Linked DNA regions of Homo sapiens. The protein of the gene in region 4 purifies or fractionates together with the protein of the main gene of each other region. This does not show direct contact. Each region holds a gene or a part of one and is shown on either strand. Other genes may lie near its edges. The genes, in order: PLEKHA1, SWAP70, BASP1, AXL, KIDINS220, USP6NL and SEPTIN6.

Region 1 (3,069 bases), on a different chromosome or scaffold from region 4:
ACGCCTGTTGATGGGTCTGATCTTGACATTGAAGTGCTCAATTTATGTCTCTGTGTAGTTAAGACCTAGCAAAACCTGGCTTTAAAAAAATGATTTCTAAATTTTTTGGAAACAGTTGCCTTAGAGTGATTTTGTTGATGACAGTATTTTAAGTTATCAAAATAAATACATTGGCTGTATAGAAGTAGGTGATTTTGAGAAAAAATTGTTTGAATGAGTTCTTTTTTCCTTTAGGCTGATAGCCCTGAAGAGATGCACAGTTGGATTAAAGCAGTCTCTGGCGCCATTGTAGCACAGCGGGGTCCCGGCAGATCTGCGTCTTCTGTAGGTTTCCTGCTCTCTGGGGTGATACTCCCTTGCGTCTCCCCCATCCTATCAAATTTCCTCTCTCCCAATCCATCCGGTTTCTTTCTTTCTTGAGATTTATTTGCATGTTGACTTTTATACCAATTGGACTTGCAAAAAATAATGCATTTCTAATTTAATGCTTCCTTGTAGTATTATGTATACATAACTTTCTGTGCATTGTATTGTGTTAAATGCACAAGTAGGGCAACTAAAGAATAAACATTTCCTTGCTTTGTTTTAGGAGTTCTTACTTGTCAGTAGCTCTAGATTTGGCATAATCTGACAGATTCTTAGTATGGTGTGTGATCAGGATCATGTAAGACTTTTAGTTGTAGCGTTACACAGTTTTGTGAACGTCTCAATTTCCTCTTTACTTCCTCTGATTTCAGTTCAGGTTTTTTGGTTTTGTTTTGTTTTTTACCTTTGGCTTAACCATGCCATCAGATCACTGAGCAGCTGGGGCCTTAAATACAGTTCAGTGCTCCCAGTGTTTCCATTTCATGTTTTAATTCTCATTTTAAAACCTGCTTTAACAGCCTGCTTCTGAAAACTACCATAATTATCTTTGTGGTAGTATGATAATAAAATTGAAATACAACTAAACATTCTGCTCAGAAATATTTTTTTAAAAGATTTTTCTTGTGTTCAAGTACATAAGAATTAGATTTGCATTTGGAATACTTTGGCCACTGATCTCAGGTCTGAAAATTTAAAGTATCTTAAAATGTAACACTGCCATCTGCGGAAAGTAGTCTCATATGTAGCATGATAGCCTTTATTATCTAGATTTACTATGACATATATGCTAGTTACTTACACTTTTAATATTTTTTTCTGATAGTATTATAATACCGCCTTTTATTAGTTTTCTGGTAGTGATAACTACAGATAAATAAATAGAAATCAATGTTTCTGATTTCTTAGTTGTTAAGTCATTCTCTCTTTATATCCTTTTTGAAATATCTAAGAAGTCACTTTCATAGATGTTCATTTTGTAACTGCCTGTATTTTATGTGACTTTTTCAGCAGTCAAGTATGAGACTCTCTGCAAAAACAGTGTCTGTTGGGAAGAGGAAAAGTTGGAGAAGGATGTTTGTGTTTTGTGCTTTGTGGTGGGGGCAGATTGGACTATCTAGCTATGACTGTCAGCACAACTTTCTCTTTTCCTCCCTCTACCCAGTATAGGTTAACTCTAATCTTAGCTTTGCACTGTGTTCCAGATGCGGCAGGCCAGAAGGCTGTCGAACCCTTGTATACAGAGGTATACATCAAGAGCTGGTGAATGCAGCACGTATGTGGGCTCTCACGCAAACGTGCCTTCTTAGTGGAGGGCCCAGACTTACTACTTACAACTGATCATAGAAAGTTGAGTTAACCAAACTGCCTTTTGCAGTTATCATAACTGATTTTGTCAATACTAACGCAAACTGTTTCACTGTAGTCATCAGGTTGGATATGTGTATTTAAAAATAAAAAATAAAACATACAACTTTACTAACAGAAAGAGACATTAACATATAAAAATTAATATACTCAACTGCTGCAAGAGTTTCAATTTTATATTATGTATTTAAAAATTTTTAAGATACAATACTTACGAAATGCACCATTGTTCTAATAATATATGCAAACTAATGCATGCATATGCATTGGATAAACTGTACATTACTATAGTTTGCATGGCATTTAAAAATCTCTGAAATTTAGCCATCTAATAGGACTCTGTAGTGTTTTGGTAATTTGTAGCACTTTGATTTCAAAGCCACTGGTATCATAAATGAATATAATATACTAGTATATAGCAATGTATTTAGAATGGTCATATTTAAGGATATTTTCAGATTTGATCTAGTTAGAAGCATATTGAAATTAACATTCTCAACTACTAATTATTTCACCACAGTTTAAAATGTGATAAATGTGTACCCTTTGTTACCTTTAAAATATTAAGCCATATGAATATATGACCTATTCAGAACTAAAATTAAGTAAAAAATGAAAAGACTGTGCTATTATTGGTTGCAGTGAAATTCAGGGAAGTAAAAACTAAGTCTTATCAGCAGAATAATGTTTGAAAGATGATTCGTGCTTATTAAAGAAATATGGCCTTTCATTGTTATAGTCTATATTTTAATTTTTTTCATTCTAAAATATGTGGGATAATTCCTAGTGTTGACTGAGAATATACTCTTAAATAAAATGATACAGCTGGGAGGTTCTCTTTTAAACACAGTTCAGTTGCAGCTGGAACACTGTATTTCAGTTTAGGTTGGCTGAATCTTCAAAGTGTCATAGGCTGCCAAATTCAGCTTTGGTGACGGAACTGGTTTCCTAGTGGAAATGGTTTTTGGCTATCATTGCTTTAAACTCACCTCTAAAAACGCGTTGCTTTGGGAAAGAACTTGCACATTTATGCTGCATGGCTTCTGCTGCTGCCTTTGTGTGTGTGTGTGTGTGTGTGTGTGTGTGTGTGTGTTTTATTTGTTTTTCAGAGAATCAAGTCTCACACTGAGTTACTAACCTGGTCATGAGTGACTGACCGTGTCTGACTGCCACTCCTTTTTGCAGGAGCATCCCCCCGGTCCTTCAGAATCCAAACACGCTTTCCGTCCTACCAACGCAGCCACCGCCACCTCACATTCCACAGCCTCTCGCAGCAACTCTTTGGTCTCAACCTTTACCATGGAGAAGCGAGGATTTTACGAGTCTCTTGCCAAGGTC
Region 2 (3,500 bases), on a different chromosome or scaffold from region 4:
TGATAGGGAGCCAGGGCAGGGCTTAAAGAGGGGAGGGTCAGGCTCTGGCTTTTGTTTTAGAAAAATCCCTCTGGCAGAATATGTATAAAAGGTGGCGACCTGGAGGTACAGATACCAACCAGGAGGCCCGACCAAAAGCAGATCAAATAGGAGTGACAGAGTTCAGAGCTGCCTGGGACAAAGTTTTAAATTTTATTTTCACTGCAACCCATAGGAAGATAAACATTTTATATCATGACCCAGCACACACACACACTCAAAGCAAAACTTATCACAAAACACTATTTCTTTATTGTGGATGAACTCACATGTTTTTCATTCCATTAAAAAAAAATGCTGGTTGCTGCCCACTAAGTTGACTTCATAGTGGGCCATAACCCACAGTTTTCAAACTTATTAGGGAGCTCATTTAGGGAAATAAAACAGCAGGATTATATCCTTGGTTTGATGTGGGGGTTGGGGAGCAAGAATCCTGACATGGATGTGTGAATGGTGTTATTCCTAATGGAAATCAATAATACAGCGGGGAAGCCATTTGGAAAGTAGAGAGGATTCATTCATTTTTGGACATATGTTGAGTTTGAGAGCACTGTATAGGATATTTGGGCTTTCCAGAAAATAAGAGGTATCAATTCTCATTCAGTTTTACTGCCTTATTGTTTTGTTTAACTGCTGTTATTTCTTTCCTTCTTTACTTTTTTTTTTTTTTTTTTTTGAAACAAGAGTCTTGCTCTTGCCCAGGCTGGAGTGCAGTGGCACAATCGCCGCTCACTGCAACCTCTGTCTTCAAGGTTCAAACGATTCTCATGCCTCAGCCACCTGAGTAGCTGGGATTACAGGTGTGCGCCACATGCCTGGCTAACTTTTTTGTATTTTTAGTAGAGACAGGGTTTCGCCATGTTGGCCAGGCTGGTCTTGAACTCCATGCCTCAAGTGATCCTCCTGCCTTGGCCTCCCAAAGTGTTGGGATTATAGGCATGAGCCACTGCTCCTGGCCTAACTGCTATTATTTCAATAGCAGTATTTTCTACACAAAGTATGATGTTTTAGGATTTAGTAAGCTTTTCCTGCTCATGCTAGGTATTCCACCATTATTTACAACATTGTAGTGTTCCAGTGGGAGGAAGCAGCATGAATTTTAAATAATTGGCTTATGTGGAAAGTTTGTAAATTGATCAATAACTTGTACATATTACTTTGAGATGTTTAATTTAGCGCTTGTTTGTTGAGTAAGACTAATGTTCTGATATATTGAAATATTTAACAGCGAGTAATCAGATCACATTAATTAGTTTGTATGCTGTCATATATCTGCAGTTTGTTTTAGTTCTGCAGACAAATATACTACACTATTAGAGGGTTATCAGTTTTTGATTCCTTTACTTATTCTGCACTAATACAGACCAGTGGCATTTTATTTATACTTCTCTCCCTGTATTTTAGGAGACTCTAAAGGTAGGCATTTTTGGAACTGTAAAGAGTATTTCCTAAGTTGAACTTATCAGTGTTTATAACATAAATACATAACTATGTTAAAGTTTTTTTTAACTAGGAAATAATTATTTCACATTCTTTATGTAGATTGAATACCTGCTTAAGAAGCTTACAGAAGCTATGGGAGGAGGTTGGCAGCAAGAACAATTTGAACATTATAAAATCAACTTTGATGACAGTAAAAATGGCCTTTCTGCATGGGAACTTATTGAGCTTATTGGAAATGGACAGTTTAGCAAAGGCATGGACCGGCAGACTGTGTCTATGGCAATTAATGAAGTCTTTAATGAACTTATATTAGATGTGTTAAAGCAGGTAAGAATTCTGTTACTGTTTTTTTTTCTCATCTTTAGAATTTGACATTTTAAAATTAATATTTTTGTCACAAAGATGAGTATAAGTCACTTATTTTCTTACACTGATTTCGTTTTTTTATTTTTTGTTTTTTTGAGACAGTCTTGCTCTGTCGCCCAGTCTGGAGTGCAGTGACGTGATCTTGGCTTACTGCAACCTCCATCTCCTGGGTTCAAGGGATTCTCTTGCCTTGAAGGCATGCACCCCCATGCCCAGCTAATTTTTGTATATTTAGTAGAGATGGGGTTTTACCATGTTGGCCAGGCTGGTCTCGAATGCCTGACCTCAAGTGATCCACCCACGTCGGCCTCCCAAAGTGCTGGGATTACAGGTGTGACCCACTGGGCCTGGCCTGATTTTGAATAGGAATAAAATTTCTTATTTTTCCAGTCTTGTATTAGGCTTTCATTAAAAAAAATTATTTGTGCGATTTTAAAGTACAGTTAAGAATACAGTTAAAATATATATATATATTTTGGCTGGACGTGGTGGCTCATGCCTGTAATCCCAGCACTTTGGGAGGCTGAGGCGGGTGGATCACCAGGTCAGGAGCTCAAGACCATCCTGGCCAGCATGTTGAAACCCTGTCTGTATTAAAAATACAAAATATATATATATATATATATATATATATATATATATATATTTTTTTTTTTTTTTTTTTCCAAGACGGAATTTCACGCTGTCACCAGGCTGGAGTGCAGTGGCATGATCTTGGCTCACTGCAACCTCCGCCTCCCGGGTTCAAACAATTCTCCCGCCTCAGCCTTTTGAGTAGCTGGGACTACAGGTGTGCGCCACCACGTCCAGCTAGCTTTTGTATTTTTAGTAGAGATGGGATTTCACCAGGTTGGCCAGGACGGTCTCGATCTTTTGACCTTGTGATCCACCAGCCTTGGCCTCCCAAAGTGTTGGCATTACAGGCGTGAACCGCCGCGCCCAGGCCATTTCCAAAATATTTTATTTTGGAAATTCATAACCACTGATCCAGAAAGATCTCCATGGCATAACGTTGAGTGAAAAAAAACCACATTGCTGAACAGGAGATATCTTGTAATCCCCTTCAGGTAATGTTATGCATGTGTGTAGAGCTGTCAGGAAGGTGCTTGCTAAAATGTTTACAGTGATCACCTCTAGATTGTGGGATTTTGGTGAATTTTTTTCTTCTTTATTCCTTTCTGTATTATTGGACTTTCTATATGATTTTATATTATTTTTATAAAATCAGAAAAATACCTCTACTTGTGGAAAAAAAAATACCTTTATGTAGCAAAGTTGCTTTTGTCTTATTTAGACTGTCCTCTTTTTCTCAGCACCCAGCATAGCAGATGAAGCTCGATGCTTGTTAAATACAATTTATATTTTTTTGGTGATTCTTTGAAACTTCTTACATTATTATATTGAATAATAACTGATTTGGGATTTCCTTACTTTGATCCTTTCTTTCTTCCATAGGTAATAGTGTTGTCTTTGTTCTTTTTTTTCCTAATGGAGCACATCATAAATGTTGAGGCTGAATTTGTATAGGTTTTTGGTGCTACAAAGAGGTATGAGACGTGGTCTCCATCTGAAGTGGAATTCTCAGCCTCTTAGGATGGCAGGATATGACTGTAGTAGAATTGCCGTATGAGATAGCTTTTGCTTAAATGTCC
Region 3 (3,500 bases), on a different chromosome or scaffold from region 4:
TATAAGGTGGAAGGGAATAAAACTAGTCACAAGATAGTTGTGGGGGATTTTAAAGATGTAAGTTAGTATCTCTATTAAGCTATTTGACATATGATAAACAAACAGTATTCTTCTGCAGGAAGTAGCAAAACAAAATGACATTTGACAATGTTAGCTTCTCTCATTAACATGGTGTGTTTAGCTTATTAGCCAAGATAAGCTGTAGACCAGGTTTTTACCCTTTACACGTGAAATTTGAGGCATTAAATGAGTAAAAGAATTGGGATTCCTTTTCCATCTTGGTGATCAAAACACTTTTCTCTTGTTTCCTTGGACCAAGTGATGAAGAGGTGGTGAGGGGACAGCAAAAAATGCAATTACATTTCTTCTCTTTATTTTTATTTTTTGAGACAAGAGTTTTGCTCTTGTTGCCCAGGGTGGAGTGCAATTGTGCGATCTCGGCTCACCGCAACCTCCACTTCCCAGGTTCAAGCGATTCTCCTGCCTCAGCCTCCTGAGTAGCTGGGATTACAGGCATGCACCACCACATCTGGCTAATTTTGTATTTTTAGTAGAGACGGGGTTTCTCCATGTTGGTCAGGCTGGTCTTCAACTCTTGACCTCAGATGATCTGCCCGCCTCGGCCTCCCAAAGTGCTAGGATTACAGGTGTGAGCCACCACACACAGCCCCCTCTTCTCTTTCTCTGATCACTCCAATACTCGTTCTAATTGGGAGGAATGGATTTAACTAATCTTTGGTTTTTATCTCTGTGTAGAAACTGATTTCTTGGCAGAATGGACTGTTAATATATTTAAAAAGACTGAAAACCTCTTAGAATCTTAAGTAGTAAAATATTCAGAGCGAAGAAGTAGAGATTTTACCTTTACAATATGGTGACAACAGATAACTGTAAAAACTTCTTTTTCAAATAGAACCAGCAGGAGCATGCATGGAACACATATACCAAACATCTTTCTGATAACATTAAACATTTTTAAAAGATGTTAAATGTTCTTTTCATTGTGGTGCTTCAGATTCCTGATTCTAGAACTTGTGTGTGTGGAACCTGTGTGCTAACTATTCTGTTGGAATTTACCAGCAAAGAATTATCTAAGAATTTTCAAACTAAATGATGGGGGAAGGAACTAACATTTTTGCAGTCCCTGGAAATGTAAAATGTTGTACTCACATGGCCTCACATTAAATTCCCATTAAATTGACATTTAAAAAAATTTTTTTATTTTAAAGGAAACGGAAGGACGATGAGATTAAATAACTTGCCCAAGGATTCTGGGTGGGTGTGCTGTGGAGGTGGGATTTTTATACTCTGCCATGACCCAATGTGCAAAGTCTCCTTGAAATTCAATTCTTGTCCAATATTTACCAGATTAAACTCAGTGAAATTCCTCTCTCTACTACTGTTTATGGTTATTTTCTATGCCAATATTAATCGGTAAGCCTGTCATTTTCGCCCTTGTGGCATCGAGTTTTCTTTGAAGGACAGCTTTTTTGTTTGCTTTTTGTTTTTTGTTTTGCTTTGTTTTGTTTTGAGGCAGGGTCTCACTCTGCCCAGGCCATAGTGCAGTGGCTGATCTCGGCTCACTGCAACCTCTGCCTCCCAGGCTCAAGCCTCCCCAGTAGCTGGGATGATAGGTGTGCACCACCACGCCTGGCTAATTTTTGTAATTTTTGTAGAGACGGGGTTTTGCCATGTTGGCCAGGTTGATCTTGAACTCCTGACCTCAAGTGATCCACCCACCTCGGCCTCCCAAAGTGCTGGGATTACAGGTGTGAGCCACCACACCCGGTCTTTAAAGGACAGCTCCAGAATTAGCTTTTTTCTGAGATGTCATAACAGAGGTCAGTTTTAGTGTTTGGTTAATACATAAACACATAGAACTGAGGTCAGTGCCTTCAGCATTGGTCTGAATTTTGTTGCTGTGCTACAAAATTCTAGTGAATTTCCTAGTTGTGGAGAAATGCAAAGTCAGTCTCGGCCTTTTCAGTAGAGCTTTGGTTTAGTGACTTTTTTAGTTGAAGTGACTTTTCAGCATGGATTGTCTATTGCTGTATTTTTTTAACTGCTTTATTTTAATCTTAGAAGTTCCAACTTCTAACTTTCTATACCAAATGATGTCTTTCAAAATTAGAAGTAACAGAAATGAATGAAATCGGCTGGGCATGGTGGCTCACGCCTGTAATCCCAGCATTTCGGGAGGCCGAAGTGGGCAGATCACCTGAGGTCAGGAGTTCAAGACCAGCCTGGCCAACATGGTGAAACCTCATCTGTGCTAAAAATACTAAAATTAGCTGGGCATGGTGGCAGGCTCCTGTAATCTCAGCTACTCGGGAGGCTGGGCAGGAGAATTGCTTGAACCTGGGAGGCGGAGGTTGCAGTGAGCCGAGATTGTGCTGCTGCTGCACTCCAGCCTAGGTGACAGACTGAGACTGCATTTCAAGAAAAAAAAAAAAAAAAAGAAAGAAAAGAAAAAGAATGAAATCATTAAACTGTATGCTCATTGCTTTCTCTTGGTAAAAAGCTTCTCTGGCAAATAGGAAGATGAAATGTTGAGAGGCAGAGGATACTCAAAATACTGAATTTCTTCCTTATTCCCTCAACACCTGAGTTCTGAACTACCCCAGGTGGCACCATCCTTGTAACCCAGGCGCATAACATTCCTGGGCTGAGAGCTTTGCCCCATTGCCGGCTTCTCAGTGGAGTTCCTTCTATCCCCTCTGTGGTGCCTTCCTGCCTTACTGAATTTTGCTGGACTTGGCCTTTGCTCATAGTACAGCTCCACGAACTCAGCTAGTAGGATTTCCTTATGGGTAAAAGGAGAATGTGAATGGCATACTACCCCATGGTGCTGTTGAGATTACATATTTTATGTAATATATTTATGAGTAGGATTGTGCTTGATACCTAGGAAACAGTTAATAGATGTTGTAGGCAAGGTCTTCACGCATATGGTCTTGGGAAATAATGAGACAATCCTGCTTTTCGAGGGTTCAGGTGGGTCCTATGAGCGTCCCTCTGATACCTCAATATAACCAGTAGAGGTAAATTAGCAAAATGCCAGGGGCGTTTGTTAACTTTGTTTGAAAAACAAACTGGATTGAGACATATTTTCTTACTTATAACTTGATTACGTGTGTTCATTTTCGACCCAGAAACAAATCGCAGCTGGGCATAAAACAAAGAATAGAATGTGGCCTTAACTATGTGTCAGAAAAGCCAGTTTTAGTAACTCAGATTTTAGGTTTGTAACCCAACATGACTTTAAACCTCTGGGGATTGCTGTATAGAATTTCATGCTGTGGGTGTCAGAAAGCAGCACCCCATGTTATACTTACTGGACCCCCTATGTTTGCACTTTATCTTAGTGTCTGTAATTTCTAAGTTGGTGTATGGGTTTCTATTACTGGATTGAGAGAAGATCCTAAAGGCAGACCTGTTAGGTTTCCTGTTTCTTATTTAGCTCAACCTAAGGGACCCAATGTATTTTGAAATATCAGAGC
Region 4 (3,500 bases):
ACCCAGCTGGTGGACTGGCTGTGCTTGCCCTGTGAGAAGAAAGGACAGAGAGGAGATGTGCTCAGAGAGGACAAGACTGGCGTGGCACGGGTAAGGGAGTAAGGGTGTGGCACGGGTAAGGGAGTGAGGGTGTGGCACGAGTAAGGGAGTGAAGGTTTGGCACGGGTAAGGGAGTGAGGGTGTGGCACGGGTAAGGGAGTGAGGGTGTGGCACGGGTAAAGGAGTGAGGCCGTGGCACAGGTAAGGGAGTGAGGGGTTGGCATGGGTAAGGGAGTGAGGGCAGCTCTCAGTAAGGCTCAGGGTAGGAACAGGGCCTAAGTTGCGGTAACACTGAAAGGTACAAGGAGTAAGTCAGGGCTGTCAGGGAGAGACAGGGTTGAAGCAGGTTGGGCATGGCTTTGGACTTACCTGGGCGCCAGGCCTCCAGGGGTACTGGGAGGCTCCAGGGTCCATCCCCAGCAGCAGTGTAGGCTGCCACACACACTGTCAGATTGGACACAGACCCGTCCCCCTGCAGCTCCAGGGTCACCTCTTGCCTTAGCCCTATGTCCATTAGCACCTAGGAGGTCCAGAAGTGGCATCAGGGTAGAACCTTACCCCCCAGCTGTTAAGCCTTCACTCTCGGGCTCAATGCCCCATCTCTTTCTCAAAACGCTCTCCCCATCCTCCAACTCCTCATCCTTCCTCGTCCTCCCCTTCATCTCTCATCCTCATCCTTTAACCTGTATCCCTCCATCCCCTTCTAGCTTCCCTTTCCATCCTCCCTCCCTATGTCAGGGTATTGCTAGCCCTGATAGGAGTGCCTTTGTGAAAATCAGGAAAAGGTACCCCTTCCCCAAGGTGCTATATAACTATCTGCTGTAAAATCGTTATATAGTAAATATGAGTCTGCTGAAATGCTTTTGCAGTGGTTCAAAAACAGCCATTCCCCATGCCCTCCCTTAGACCCCCTTATTCTCCCCAGAATGTGAATGTGAACCTTCCCTGAATGTGCCCCCTAGGCATAGAGCAATTGTGTACTACCCAACCTTCACAACCATCTATGTCTGCCCTGATATGTTCTCCTCCCTCCTCCCCAAGCCACTCCACTCCAATCCCACCAGCAGCACCCACCTCTGGGGTGTCCTGGCCTTGATACGCCAGCCGGTACCCTAACAGGGTACCCTGCAGGGGCGCCCGGGGCTCTTGCCAATGCACGAAGGCCTGGCTCCCATTCCGCGTAGCACTAATGTTCTCAGGGGGGCCCAGGGGCACTGGAGGACAGGGAAGAGGGGAAGCTGGCACCCCCACCTCTTCCTGACCCCCTCCCCTGTTCCCAGGAAGTGGGTGCAGGGTGCCAAGGGCACACACGTGGGCAACTCGTGCAGGCCTCCCATGAGAGGAAGCACAGGGGAGAGAAGGGCTGGGAGAGAGGCCAGCGGGCAGTGCTGCTGAGGGGTCAGAGATTGGATGGGAAGGAGATTGAGGCCATGAGGGGTAAAGGAGTGAAAGGGGACAATGGGGGTGGCACTGATATAAGCAAGGTCCGGTGGGGCAGTGGTGACGTGTCCCTCCCCAACCCTTCTTACCTCCCTCCGGCGTCTCCACAGGAAGCCAGTGGGTCCAGGATGAGGGGCCCTGGCTGCTGGTGCATGCCACGCGGATGTGATAAGGGGTGTGAGGATGGAGGCTGCCTAGCCGAAGCTGATGGGGGGGCACGGATGCTTGCGAGGTGAGGGGCTCCTCTGGGGGGTCTGGTTCTCCCGCCTGGATGCCCATCCCATCGTCTGACAGCACAGCCTGAGGAGAGGCAAGGGTGTGAGGACGGGACAGCCAAGCAATCACACGAGATGGTCACACAGCTCCCAGTGGTGGTGGTCTGGTGTGACTACACAACTTTTCAAGGGTGCGTGTGTGTTGCAGTGCCATGCTAGGATAACACGGGCACCTGGATTTGCAAAGCAAGGAGATCATTTGGCTGTATACAATGTGGTTCTGTCACCACTTCCAAAAGCCACCTCTGGCAAGACTCTTCCCTCTCTGAGCCTCAGTTTTTTCCTTGGGCACACGGGGCCTTAGAGGATCAAGTGCCTTACAGGATTGTTTAAAGATTAAGTGTAGTTATGCCCAAAGGATGCCACAGTGCATGGCGGGTGGTCAGCACCGATAATAATAGTGTGATGACAATAATAACGCAAATAGACTGGGCACGGTGGCTCCCGCCTGTAATCCCAGCACTTTGGGAGGCCAAGGTGGGCGATCACTTGAGGTTAGGAGTTCAAGACCAGCCTGGCCAACGTGGTGAAACCCCATCTCTTCCAAAAATGTAAAAAATTAGCTGGATGTGGTGGCGCTCGCCTGTAATCCCAGCTACTCGGGAGGCTGCGATAGGAGAACCACTTGAACCTGGGAGGCAGAGGTTACAGTGAGCTAAGATCACACCACTGCACTCCAGCCTGGGTAACAGAGCAAGACTCTGTCTCAAATAATAGTAATGATCATCATAATAATAGCACGATACTGTGAGGCCCCATTTATATGACATTATACTACAGGCAAAAGCAATGTTCTAGAAGCAGAAGGGTGGCCATCTCTGGGGCCTGAGGGAGACTTCTTGGGGACTGGAAGGGTCTGTGTCTTGATTTGGATGGTGGTTACATGGTGAATATGTGTGTTAAACAATCTCAAAGGTGTCCAATCTTTTGACTTTCTTGGACCACAGTGGAAGAAGAATTGTCTTGGGCCACACATAAAATACGCTAACACTAACGATAGCTGATGCGTTAAAAAAAAAAATCACAAACAAATCTCATAATGTTTTAAGAAAGTTTACGAACTTATGTTGGGCCGCATTCAAAGCCATCCTGGGCCACATGTGTTAGACGAGCTTGATCTAGAGGTACACTGAAGATTATGCATGTTATACATCTCATTTCTTTTTCTTTTTTTTTTTTTTTCCTTTTTTTGGAGAGGGAGTCTTGCTCTGTCGCCCAGGCTATAGTGCAGTGGTGAGATCTTGGCTCACTGCAACCTCCGTCTCCTAGGTTCAAGCAATTCTTCTGCCTCAGCCTCCCAAGTAGCTGGGACTACGCGTACCACCACGCCCGACTAATTGCCGTATTTTCAGTAGAGACAGCGTTTCACCATGTTAGTCAGGCTGGTCTCAAACTCTTGACCTCAGGCAATCCGCCCGCCTCAGCCTCTCAAAGTGCTGGGATTACAGGTGTGAGCCACCGTGCCCGGCCTATGAGTCTCATTTCATCACCTGAGCTGGAGTGCAGTGGCGTGATTTCGGCTCACTGCAATCTCCGCCTCCCAGGTTCAGGCAATTCTCATGCCTCGGCCTCCCAAGTAGATGGGATTACAGGCGTGAGCAACCATGCTTGACTAATTTTTTTTTTTTTTTTTTTTTAGACAGAGTCTTGCTCTGTCACTCAGGTTGGAGTGCAGTGGTACAATCTCGGCTCACTGCAACCTCCGCCTCCTGGGCTCAAGTAATTCTTCTGCTTCAGCCTCTCGAG
Region 5 (3,500 bases), on a different chromosome or scaffold from region 4:
GAGACAGAGTCTCACTCTGTTGCCCAGGCTGTAGTGCAGTGGTGCGATCCCAGCTTGCTGCAATCTCTGCCTCCTGGGCTCAAGGGATCCTCCCACCTCAGCCTGCCGAGTAGCTGGGACCACAGGCTACACGCCACCACACCTGGCTAATTTTTGTAGATATAGGGTTTCACCATGTTCCCCACACTGGTCTCGAACTCCTGAGCTCAAGCGATCCACCCACCTTGGCCTCCCAAAGTGCTGGGATTATAGGCATGAGCCACTGCACCCAGCCAGATTACTGATTTTATATCTTTCTTCTTTACGAATATATGCATTCAGTGCTATAAATTTTCTTCTCAGCTGTTCTTTTGTTGCGTCCCACAAATTTTGATAAGTTGTGTTTCCATTTTTATTTAGTTCAAAATATTTTAAAATTTCTCTTGAGACTTTTTTCTTTGACCCATGTGTTATTTGGAAGTGTGTTTTTAAATCTCTGCATGTTTTGGGATTTTCCAATTATCGTTCTGTTTTTGACTTCTAGTTTAATTCCACTGAGGGGAAGACATTGTATGCATGATTTCTATTTTAAATTTGTTATGGCGTGTTTTATGGCTCAGAATGTGGTCCATCTTGGTGAATGCTTTATGTGAGTTTGAAAAGAATGTGTATTCTGTTTTTTTTTCTTTTTTTGGATGAAATAAGTGTAGGTGTCAGTTATAGCCAGTTGATTGATGGTGTTGTTGAGCTGAACTGCGTCCTTACTGGTTTTCTGACTGCTGCATCTGTCCTTATAGAATGGTATTGAGGTCTCAAGCTATGATAGTGGATTTATCTATTTCTTCTTGCAGTTCTGTCAGCTTTTGTCTTACATATTTTGATTCTCCTTTCTTAGATATATAAATGTTTAGGATTATTATGTCTCCTTAGAGAATCAGCTCCTTTGTTGTTATGTAATGCCCCCCTTTAATATATATATATTATATATATATAATAATTAATATAGTTACTCCCCCTCTCTTTTGATTGGTGTTGGTATAGCTTTCTCCATTCATTTACTTTTAATCTACGTGTGTCTTTTTATGTAAGGTGGGTTTCTTGTAGATAACATACAATTAGCTCTTATTTTTTGATCATCTCTGACATCTCTTTTAATTGATATCTTTAGAACACTGACGCTCAAAGGGATAATTGGTTTTGATGGATTAATATCTATCGTATTTGTTACTGTTTTCTATTTGTTGCTTGATTTTTGTTCCTATTTTTGTCTTCTACTCTTCTTTTTGTCTTTTATGCTTTTATTGAGCATTTTTTTATGATTCCATTTTCTCACCTTTCTTAGCATATCAGTTGTACTTTTTTTTAAACTGTTTTTTTTGAGTGGTTGCCCTAGGGTTTGCAATATGCATTTATAACTAATCCAAGCCCACTTTCAAGTAATACTATATCACTTCTCAGGTAGTTTATCTTATAATAGCAAAATAATCCTAATTCCTCTCTCCCGTCCCTTGTATCATTGTTGTTACTAATTTCATTTACATTTATAAGCATACATAATATGTACATTATACACACACACACACACCCCCCACCACACACACACACACACACACAGACACACACACACATATATAAGCTTACGTAATCAAGGAGTGGCCACTTCCAAAGTGTTTACATATATGTAGAACCAGAAACCAGCAGTCCTTTTATTTATTTTGAGTTCTATTCCAGATTTTTCCAGTGGAAATACATATTTGGAGTGAGAAACATCATAACAGTAGCATGTTTTTATAAAATAGACTTTTATAAGTTATTCAAAAGAGTTAGCAACTACTGTCTAATAATATAAGTTCCTCTAGAGCCCAGTAAAGATATCTGTTTTTAAAAATAGCAAATTGAACCACCAAAATAAATAATACAGGATTTTCTTTTTCAAAGTGAAAGGTCAGATGCCATCAGGGAGCCAGCAGCAGTGTAGTGCTTTGATCATTTGGATTTGCATCCAGATCTGAATCTTTTCACATTCAGAGCCTCTAATCTTGGCAAGTTAGTCACTCAACCCAGTTTGTTCTTTTTAGAACAGATATGGTAGTGTCTATCCCACAGTGTCATTCTGAGGATCAGCTGCTGTAATTTATGTGTAGTCACTTGGTAAATTGTGAAGCACTCGCTCTTATTTTAAGTGGAAGCACAACTGGCAGCAAGGACTTTGAATGTCTTCTGTTCCTATTAGATGACTTTCTATCACGCTTTCTAAGAAATATGTTTAAGCTTCTTGGATCTTCCTTCAGTGCTTTCTATACCTTCCTTTGCAATACAGGTTCTTAAATGTGAAGTGGAATTGATGGCCAGGATGGCAAAAACCATTGACAGCTTCACTCAGAATCAGACAAGGCTGGTGGTCATCATCGATGGATTAGATGCCTGTGAGCAGGACAAAGTCCTTCAGATGCTGGACACTGTACGTTTGCGCCACCTCAAAAGCCACCATTGTTATGTTGTGGCACTTGAGAGAATGTTTGACTTCACAAATATCTAAAAATAGAACGGAATTGGTTTTTGTTTGAGTAGTTCCTATTTTGTGATTTTTCTTTTGTAAAAACAACCATTCTTTATACAGAAATGTAGCAAGAATAAATGTTTAGTCACAAAGATATTTAAATAATTTTAGCTTAGTGGCACTGTGAGAAAAATGAATAGAGCATCTGTATTCATGAATGTTTCTCATGTGCATTGATTTACCTCTTTAGCAGACTGTAAATGTCTGAAAGAAGGACAATATTAATTTTCTTTGCAGGTTTTATCTATGTCAGATGACAACAAACCTAGATTGAGCTGTCAGTAAAATTTGCTTTTGTGCAGAGTAAGTTTTGATGAAAAGAAATAGTAGTTTAGAAATATTGTCACCAAAAGGTAGCACATATTTTGAAGAGATGCCTTATTCTTTTGGACAATTTAAAATGTATGTCACAACTGTACATTTCTTCTGCCACAGGTCCGAGTTCTGTTTTCAAAAGGCCCGTTCATTGCCATTTTTGCAAGTGATCCACATATTATCATAAAGGCAATTAACCAGAACCTCAATAGTGTGCTTCGGGATTCAAATATAAATGGCCATGACTACATGCGCAACATAGTCCACTTGCCTGTGTTCCTTAATAGTCGTGGACTAAGCAATGCAAGAAAATTTCTCGTAACTTCAGCAACAAATGGAGACGTTCCATGCTCAGATACTACAGGTAAAGCTCAGGCTCCTAAAGTACTTTGAGTTTGAAATAGTTTTGTAGTTTCTTTATGGCGACTCTCCTTTTTACCTTGAAAAATATTGTTGTTGTTTCACATTTCTTTAAATATCATATACAACAGAATTTTGGTGTAAGTGATGCTGTCTTGATAAATTATTTAAGGGATACAGGAAGATGCTGACAGAAGAGTTTCACAGAACAGCCTTGGGGAGATGACAAAACTTGGTAGCAAGACAGCCCTCAATAGACGGGTAAGATGCCATTGGCTTCGAGCTG
Region 6 (4,107 bases), on a different chromosome or scaffold from region 4:
AGAACAGGTTTGTAGCCTAGGAGCAATAAGTCACACCTTATAGCCTAGGTGTGTAGGAGGCTCTACTATCTAGGTTTGTGTAAATATACTCTATGATGTTCGCACAATCACGAAATTGCCTAAGGATGAATTTCTCAGACTGTATTGCTGGGTATCCCTGTCGTTAAGATTACCACACTTGAGAGCTAGAAGGAGCCTTAGAGACCAAACCTAATCTGAGTCACAGTTCTCAAAGTTTGGGTGCTAGCAAAGAGCCTGTGACCCTGCCTCCTCCTTCCACCCCTTCTGTGAGATATTGGGCGCAGCATTCAGTTTCTTCGTGTCAGTTTTCACCAGCTGGAAAAGAGAGATAAAAGGCACAGTGCAGGGTTGCCAGGTTCAGTAATTCTAGTTCCTGGAATCAAGGACAGGAAGCCTTTTGGTTACTTGTACACCCTAACTTTTCTAGCTTCGATTGAATCAATCATTTAACTGTCAGCTAATTACGGCTTTGGGAAGTTTACATCATTCATCTTTTTATGGCACCCCTTAATGGGAGGCTTTGGAGATTAAAACTCTTGACAATTTCCACGATGTAAAAAAGGAAAGTTGACCTACAGAAAGATGGGACAGTGATGAACATTTGAGAAGCTTGAAGCAGCAATGGGATCTACACAGTAGCCTACTTAAAGTAGTGCTGATGTGAACGCTTAGCCTAAGTTCCTGAAAAATGACAGCAGTGTCACCTATGTCAGTAGCAATGGCATTTTATTGAGCTTTGCACTTACTACCAAGCACTCGCTTGTTCCAGGACAGCCCCATGAGGCAGGTCCTATTATCATTCCACTTTACAGATGAAGAAACTGAGGCACAGGGAAAAGTGTCCAAGGGCTGACACCTGGTAAGTAGTTGAGGCAGAAATGAAAAAAAAAAAAAAGCCAGGCTGGCTCCGGAGACCATCCTCTCGCCCCCTACTCAGCTGACCTCCCTACGTCTCTGCTATCCTCTGACCTGCCGGCTGGACACGCCAATGTCGCTCGTTTGCGTGCCCCGAAGCCCCGCTTTGGGTCCTGGGCTTCCAGCGCCCGCTTCCCGCCGAGGGGCTCCGGGCACCTGCAGCCCTGGGCGCGCGTCCCCGAGGCGGGCGGGAGCGCGCACGGCGGGAGTGCGGGAGCGGAGCGCACGTGCCGCCGGGAAGGGGCCGCGCCAATATGGCGGCGGCTGCGGCCGCTGCGGTGACGGTTGGCGGCGGCCGGTGAGGCGGGCGGGGCCGGAGGCGCGGAGGCGGGGTCCCGGGCGAGCCGCCCTGGGAGGCGGGGGCCGTTTCCATAGCGGCGGCAGGAGGTGTCGCGCCGGGGAACTTCCTGGTTCCCGGGCTCGGCTTCGCCGGGATCCTCTTGGAAGGGAAACAATGGGGCGGAGGGCACTGCGGTAGCCGCCGCCGCCGCCGCGCCGCGCCGCGCCGGATCTGCTCGGCCGCCCGGGACCGCCAGCTCTGTCCGCTGCCCACAGCCTAGCAGTCGGGACCGTACTGAGGTAACTTCCATTCCTCAGCTCCCGCCGTGAGGGGCCGGCGGCGGCGGGCTCCGCGGGCGTCCTCCCCGGGCCGGGACTCGGAGTTGGCCCCGGGGAGCCGGACGCCGCCATTCCCGGCCCCTGGAGGAGGGGACGCGGCTGCGGTTCGCGGCTCGGCCCTGGGGGGCGGCTCGGGCACAGTGCGGGGGCTGCCTGTGTGTCCCCGCGCCCGGAGCGTGGGGTCCGCGGGGCGATGGGCGGGCTGGGGGCGCCGCGCGGGGTGCGGGGAGGCCCGGGGGTGGAACCCGGCGACTGCCTCCCCGAGTGAGCCGCGATCCCGGCCAGGCGCGTCTCCCTCGCAAGTTTCGGTCGCGTCTCCCGAGCCCCAGTGGGCAGGACCCGGGCAAACTTCGTGCCTTTAAATGACTGCCTTGATGCCGCGGAACTTTGTTTGGACCAGGCGAGGGGAGGATGGGGCGAATGAGAGATCTGCAAGTCTTGGAAATCCGTGCGCCTTTGCAAAGTTTGCAAAATAGTTTGGCGCTCACAACCCTAGGCTGGTGCGGCATTTGTAATGCGTGAAAACGGTTCCTCGCAGGTGTTTTACTGCTAGAAAATGCGGGACGCGTAGGAATCCATGGGTGCACGTTTCTGTAATTTGAAAATGTTGTCTCTCCCCACCCCCAACCCTTATCCCTTTCTTTCCCAACATTTAATCCGCAGATAGATGCTTTTTAGACCGTAGACTTCAGCATGCCTTCTTTGGACTGGGAAGGCTTGTTGAATTAGGGCCGTACCCAGTGATTGGAAATAGTGCGAGACGAATGGAAAAAAAAAAAAAAAGTGAGGACGCCGTCTTAAGTATGTTGCTTGTTGAAAGAAAATGGTTTCAATCCTGTATTAATCCTTTTATAAAAATAATTACACCTTTGGGATAGATATTTAATATTTCATAGCTTAGAAAAGTTACACAGAACTTTAGAGATCACCCTGGCCAACTCCCTCCTATATTGAGTCTCTGGCAAGTTCCTTCAGGGGGAAGTCAGTGTTCTTTTTTCTTTCCTGAAGTCATCTGAATAAGAATAAATTAGCCAGCAGCAAGTGAACAGTGGTTTATTTGCTTTTATTTCTGGTTCAGTCAGACCCTAAAATTAACAAAAATATTTCCTGGTTTGCCATTCTTTTATAACAACATTTGTAAACATAGTGTAGTTCATTACTTAAAATGGATGTTGATGCCATGTTGTATTCTACGTAGACAATTAAAATGTCCAAATAGAAAAAAAATTATACTAATAAAAGTATAAGTTAACTTTTAAAGGAAGAAATCCTAATTGCAAGTACAGGTATCCTTAGTTAACAGAAATTCCTTTGCTGATTATATATATATAGAGAATTAATGAGTTGTTACAAAGGCACTCAAAGAAACATCCTTTGCCAAATATTAAGAATTTGGGCCCTGAGCCTCAGTTTTGGTGCCTACTTAGTTTTTAGCTATGCAGCCAGACTCTTTGTTGTACTTGTTTCTGGTAAGACTAGTCCATTACCAGTTTTAATAATGTTTTGACATGCAAATAGCTCCTACTGGGGACTGACTTTGGTTAAACAAGCCAGTAAGTGAAAGTGTCAGATTTGGCACTGTTAGGTGATTGATCATCCTCTGGCGTTATAGGGAACCAAGAGAACTACTCACCCCAGCAGATCCAACCTGAGTCTCCAATGCCAAGCAAGGGTTGCCTTGGTCCATCTTTGCCACCATGTGCCCATGTGTGTCAAGTCCTTGTTACATTTTGTAGCCAGCTAAGATGGGTGAAAAAGAGGCCAATGAGTTCAAGCTAGTAGCAAACTGAAAACAAACAAAATTACTCTGATTAGAAAGTGTGAGGAATGTTAATGTAGTAGAATAGGATAGCTTTGGGAATTGCCACTTGAGGTAGCGAGAACGAGACAAGTGATTACAATTCTGGTTTATGTTCACAATTTCACTGTAACGATTTTTTTTAACCATTCTTACTTTGTAACTAGTGCAATGCAGACCTCTAATTACCAGAAAGTTATAGTTTGTTCCTTCAATGTGATTTTTGAAAAGCATAGACTGGCGGGTTGCAGTGGCTCATGCCTGTAATCTCAGCACTTTGGGAGGCCGAGGCAGATGAATCATTTGAGGTCAGGGGTTCAAGACCAGCCTGGCTAACATGCTGAAACCCCCGTTCCTACTAAAAATACAAAGATTAGCTGGGCGGTAGTGGTGCACTGCTGTAATCCCAGCTACCCGGGAGGCTGAGACAGGAGAATCCTTTGAGTCTGGGAGGTAGAGGTTGCAGTGAGCGGAGATCGCTCCACTGCACTCCAACCTGGGCCACAGAGTGAGACTCTGTCTCAAATAAAAAAAGAAAAGAAAAGAAAAGAAAAGCATAGTCCATTGTCAGATATGATTTCATTATATTGAGAGACTCATTTTTCCCTTGAACAGATGACTCCTGTATTTACAGTGGAAGTCACTGTAAGAATAATAATTGAAAAGAAATCCAACTTGTAGCACACGTCCATGTAGTACATGAGATTTAAGCATGGGAATTGGAGCGACAGAGACTTGGATTCTCAACTGGTCTA
Region 7 (3,500 bases), on a different chromosome or scaffold from region 4:
ACGGACTTTCACTCTTGTTGCCCAGACTGGAGTGCAATGGCACGATCTTGGCTCACCGCAACCTCCGCCTCCTGGGTTCAAGCAATTCTCCTGCCTCAGCCTCCCGAGTAGCTGGGATTATAGGCATGCACTACCATGCCTGGATACTTTTTATTTTTAGTAGAGACGGGGTTTCACCATGTTGGCCAAGCTGGTCTCGAACTCGCAACCTCAGGTGATCTGCCCACCTTGGCCTCCCAAAGTGCTTGGATTAGCAGCATGAGCCACTGCCCCTGGCCTGATATATGTTTATAGTGTGTCAATGGGGACTTGGCGAAAGTGCCAAGGAGAATAGGCTCTGCCTGCTGTTTCATCTTGGCAAGGGCTTTGACCCTTCTGCCCCTGAAAGACTTCAAGGGAGGTGCCTCCACGGTTCAGTCTTTCCTTGACCCAGCGGCTGTGTGATATCAGCCTTCAGAGGCACTCCTAAGCCAAAGCGCAGAGGAAGCAGGATTTTTCTTCCACGTCTGGAGCTCCCAGACTCCCCTTTTAGAGTCCGGGGCCTGAGTGCCACCTATGCCCCTCCCCCACCCCCCGTTGGAGTCTACTGGCAGGAATGATTATGCTCTCCATGTCAACCTGAACTTAGTGTGCTCTGTCTCACAAACACATGTGCATTTCAAGTTTCTTTACCTTCTGACAGTAAAAGCCTTGTCCCTTCTTGGAGGAATTTCAAGGATTAGGGTTCAGGTGGATTGAACTTTTGGTTGGGATTAGTTCTTTCTCCTGATGCCTGAAATTGGGCATTTATACTTGCTTTTCTTACTCAGAAATTAATCATGAGACTCAGGCAGTATAATTCTTTTTGCATAAGTCTCAGATCAAATTGTAACTATAGGTTCTTCCTCACCTAACTGAGTTGATTATTCAGTGTCTCCTGCCAGAAAGAGAGCCAGGTGTGCATCCTCACTGAGCACTGTCCCTGCCTCCTTTCCCTGCCATCTCTCATGTGGGTCCATATCACACCCGGCTTGGGCTAGACTAGACCCGATGGGTTGGGACAATTTACTCTTAGCAAGAAGAGGCCACCTCTCCCCTGTCAGCCACAGATTCCCAGCTATCACCTTTCTGCTTCAAGTCTCCCAAGCAGTAACCTTGATACCAAGATAACATACAGCTCATCAACTTGGATCTGAACTGGTAGACAGCTCATGCTTAAGACTATGGACTTAGGAATAAGGCTGAGTTTGGATTTGAATCCCAGTTCTCCTACTTACCTGCTCCATGGCCTTGGACAAGTTACTTAACCTCCCTATGCCTTAATTTCTCATTGGCAAAATAGTAGTAATAATACCTCCTGGAAGGGTTATTGTCAGGATTAATTGTGCTAATTCATGTAAAGCACTTAGTTCAGTGCCCAGCACATAGTTAGTACTTGTCGTTTATTATATTGTCATTTGGCTACAGAAGTGGCCAGTCTTTGACCACTGGGCTGAGCGGCTCCCTCTGGCAGCTGGTGGAAGTCCTAGGTCATGCTGCTATCAGTTGCAGGTTACCAACAATGACCCCACTTTGCCCCTCCTCTCCCTAGGTGAACATCATCCCCATCATTGCCAAAGCAGATGCCATTTCGAAGAGTGAGCTAACAAAGTTCAAAATCAAAATCACCAGCGAGCTTGTCAGCAACGGAGTCCAGATCTATCAGTTTCCTACAGATGATGAGTCGGTGGCAGAGATCAATGGAACCATGAACGTGAGTGGGAGCAATTTCCTGACCATTTGCTTTTTATGATGATTATCATTATTTTAATGTGCTTTAGAGACAGGGTCTTGCTCTGTTGCCCAGGCTGGAGTGCAGTGGTGTGATCACAACTCACTGCAGCCTTGAACTCCTGGGCTCAAGGGATCCTCCCGCCTTAGCCTCCCAAGTAGCTGGGATTACAGGTGCACTCACCACACCTGGCTAATGTTTTAATGTTTTGTAGAGACGGGGTCTTGCTATGTTGCTCAGGCTGGTCTTGAACCCCTGGGCTCAAGCGATCCTCCTGCCTCAGCCTCCCAAAGTACTGGGATTACAAGTGTGAGCCACCACGCTGACCCCTTTATTATTATTATTATTTTACCAAATAGCAGCAAAACATCTTCACCATCCATCTTAGTGTAGTCAACTCTTTTTTTCTTTTACTTTTTTTTTTTTTTTTTAAGACAGGATCTCATTCCATTGCCCAGGCTAGAGTACAGTGGCACAATCTCGGCTCACTGCAACCGAGATATGTTATTTTTAAATATCAGGGTTGGCTGGGCATGGTGTCTCACGCCTGTAATCCTAGCACTTTTGGAGGCCGAGGCGGGTAGATCACCTGAGGTCGGGAGTTTGAGACCAACCTGGCCAACATGGCAAAACCCCGTCTCTACTAAAAAATACAAAAATTAGCCAGGCGTGGTGGTGTGCGCCTATAATCCCAGCTACTCTGGAGGCTAAGGCAGAGGTTGCAGTGAGCCAAGATTACGCCATTGCACTCCAGCCTGGGCGACAGAGTGAGACTCCATCTCAAAAAAAAAAAAAAAAAAAAAAAAATCAGCGTTATGCTTTGCTTTATTAAGTGTGAATGAATAATAATAATAAAAAACCTTGCCATCTTTCCTCTCCTCCCCCACTTTCTCCTACTAGAGAAATGAGTAATAAAGAAGGCAGAGATGCAAACATCTCCTAATGCTTCCTTACAATGTGTTGCTGTTGCTGTGAAATCTTCAATGTTGTGATTTCAAGGAGACAGCTAATAGCTTTCAGAAAGCCTCCGCTTTAGGAACAGATTTCTTTTTCTCTATTGAGTGTCATCAGTTTTTCCTAATGACATAATGCCTGGGTATAGCCAAACTCAGGAAAGCCTTGTAATAAAAGCCATTTTTAGAAAACTTTCCTGCTGCCACTGCCCTCTAAGTTATCATTACAACTTCAGCTGCCACCTCCTATGAATTGGCCAACAAATTAGCATAGCAGGGCAGCAAGTCATTGTCTCTCCTGACTTCCTGTCCATCAGTACACCCGAGATGTGTTTGTTATCACCATCACCATCTTAGACAAATCTGGCTCAAGGGTAAGGCTATCTGGAGCATGGTAGGTAGAGATAGGTCTTCTCTGACCGGCCGTGGGCATGGAAAAAATAAAAAAGATTAGCACTTGTCCTCTCGAGAAGTCAGGGCATTTTGATGGAAACTAGGCTCTGTTATGAAGAGACAGCCTAGTCTGCAGAAAAACGGGAGCCTCGCGAGAAGTGTCATCTGGGTGCCACGGGCACTGATGTCTGGAAGCGTCTAGTCACCTCAGGACATCAGTCCCCATAGAGACCTTCTGAACACTGATGCCCTAAGTCATCAAGCAGCTTGCAGGCTTGTGGTTTGCTTTGCTAAGAATAAATAGGGACTGAGAGTACTCAGCCATCTCAAGGTGTCACACAGAACCACATCTTGGTACCTCATGGATTAGGAGTGATAATCATCCTGGGCTCTGTTCTCAGCTC

Evidence for each region.
Region 1: the proteins of AXL (region 4) and PLEKHA1 purify together in Homo sapiens (affinity purification with mass spectrometry; one large-scale study listed by BioGRID and IntAct). This does not show direct contact.
Region 2: the proteins of AXL (region 4) and SWAP70 purify together in Homo sapiens (affinity purification with mass spectrometry; one large-scale study listed by BioGRID and IntAct). This does not show direct contact.
Region 3: the proteins of AXL (region 4) and BASP1 purify together in Homo sapiens (affinity purification with mass spectrometry; one large-scale study listed by BioGRID and IntAct). This does not show direct contact.
Region 5: the proteins of AXL (region 4) and KIDINS220 purify together in Homo sapiens (affinity purification with mass spectrometry; one large-scale study listed by BioGRID and IntAct). This does not show direct contact.
Region 6: the proteins of AXL (region 4) and USP6NL purify together in Homo sapiens (affinity purification with mass spectrometry; one large-scale study listed by BioGRID and IntAct). This does not show direct contact.
Region 7: the proteins of AXL (region 4) and SEPTIN6 purify together in Homo sapiens (affinity purification with mass spectrometry; one large-scale study listed by BioGRID and IntAct). This does not show direct contact.

Annotation. Positions count from the first base shown.
Region 1 is NC_000010.11:122,426,708-122,429,776, forward strand, and holds part of PLEKHA1 (pleckstrin homology domain-containing family A member 1), read left to right. Parts: intron 1-234; coding exon 235-324; intron 325-1,374; coding exon of another isoform or gene 1,375-1,439; intron 1,440-1,550; coding exon of another isoform or gene 1,551-1,673; exon of another isoform or gene 1,674-1,713; intron 1,714-2,916; coding exon 2,917-3,069. UniProt on the Homo sapiens protein: Binds specifically to phosphatidylinositol 3,4-diphosphate (PtdIns3,4P2), but not to other phosphoinositides. May recruit other proteins to the plasma membrane.
Region 2 is NC_000011.10:9,723,077-9,726,576, forward strand, and holds part of SWAP70 (switch-associated protein 70), read left to right. Parts: intron 1-1,581; coding exon 1,582-1,809; intron 1,810-3,500.
Region 3 is NC_000005.10:17,269,631-17,273,130, forward strand, and holds part of BASP1 (brain acid soluble protein 1), read left to right. Parts: intron 1-3,500.
Region 4 is NC_000019.10:41,236,223-41,239,722, reverse strand, and holds part of AXL (tyrosine-protein kinase receptor UFO isoform 1 precursor), read right to left. Parts: intron 1,780-3,500; coding exon 1,569-1,779; intron 1,254-1,568; coding exon 1,114-1,253; intron 560-1,113; coding exon 409-559; intron 30-408; coding exon 3-29; intron 1-2. UniProt on the Homo sapiens protein: Receptor tyrosine kinase that transduces signals from the extracellular matrix into the cytoplasm by binding growth factor GAS6 and which is thus regulating many physiological processes including cell survival, cell proliferation, migration and differentiation.
Region 5 is NC_000002.12:8,778,614-8,782,113, reverse strand, and holds part of KIDINS220 (kinase D-interacting substrate of 220 kDa), read left to right. Parts: intron 1-2,299; coding exon 2,300-2,440; intron 2,441-2,974; coding exon 2,975-3,218; intron 3,219-3,386; coding exon 3,387-3,475; intron 3,476-3,500. UniProt on the Homo sapiens protein: Promotes a prolonged MAP-kinase signaling by neurotrophins through activation of a Rap1-dependent mechanism. Provides a docking site for the CRKL-C3G complex, resulting in Rap1-dependent sustained ERK activation.
Region 6 is NC_000010.11:11,608,851-11,612,957, reverse strand, and holds the start of USP6NL (USP6 N-terminal-like protein), read left to right. Parts: upstream 1-1,307; 5' UTR 1,308-1,515; exon of another isoform or gene 1,516-1,657; intron 1,658-4,107. UniProt on the Homo sapiens protein: Acts as a GTPase-activating protein for RAB5A and RAB43. Involved in receptor trafficking. In complex with EPS8 inhibits internalization of EGFR. Involved in retrograde transport from the endocytic pathway to the Golgi apparatus.
Region 7 is NC_000023.11:119,648,169-119,651,668, reverse strand, and holds part of SEPTIN6 (septin-6), read left to right. Parts: intron 1-1,570; coding exon 1,571-1,732; intron 1,733-3,500. UniProt on the Homo sapiens protein: Filament-forming cytoskeletal GTPase. Required for normal organization of the actin cytoskeleton. Involved in cytokinesis. May play a role in HCV RNA replication.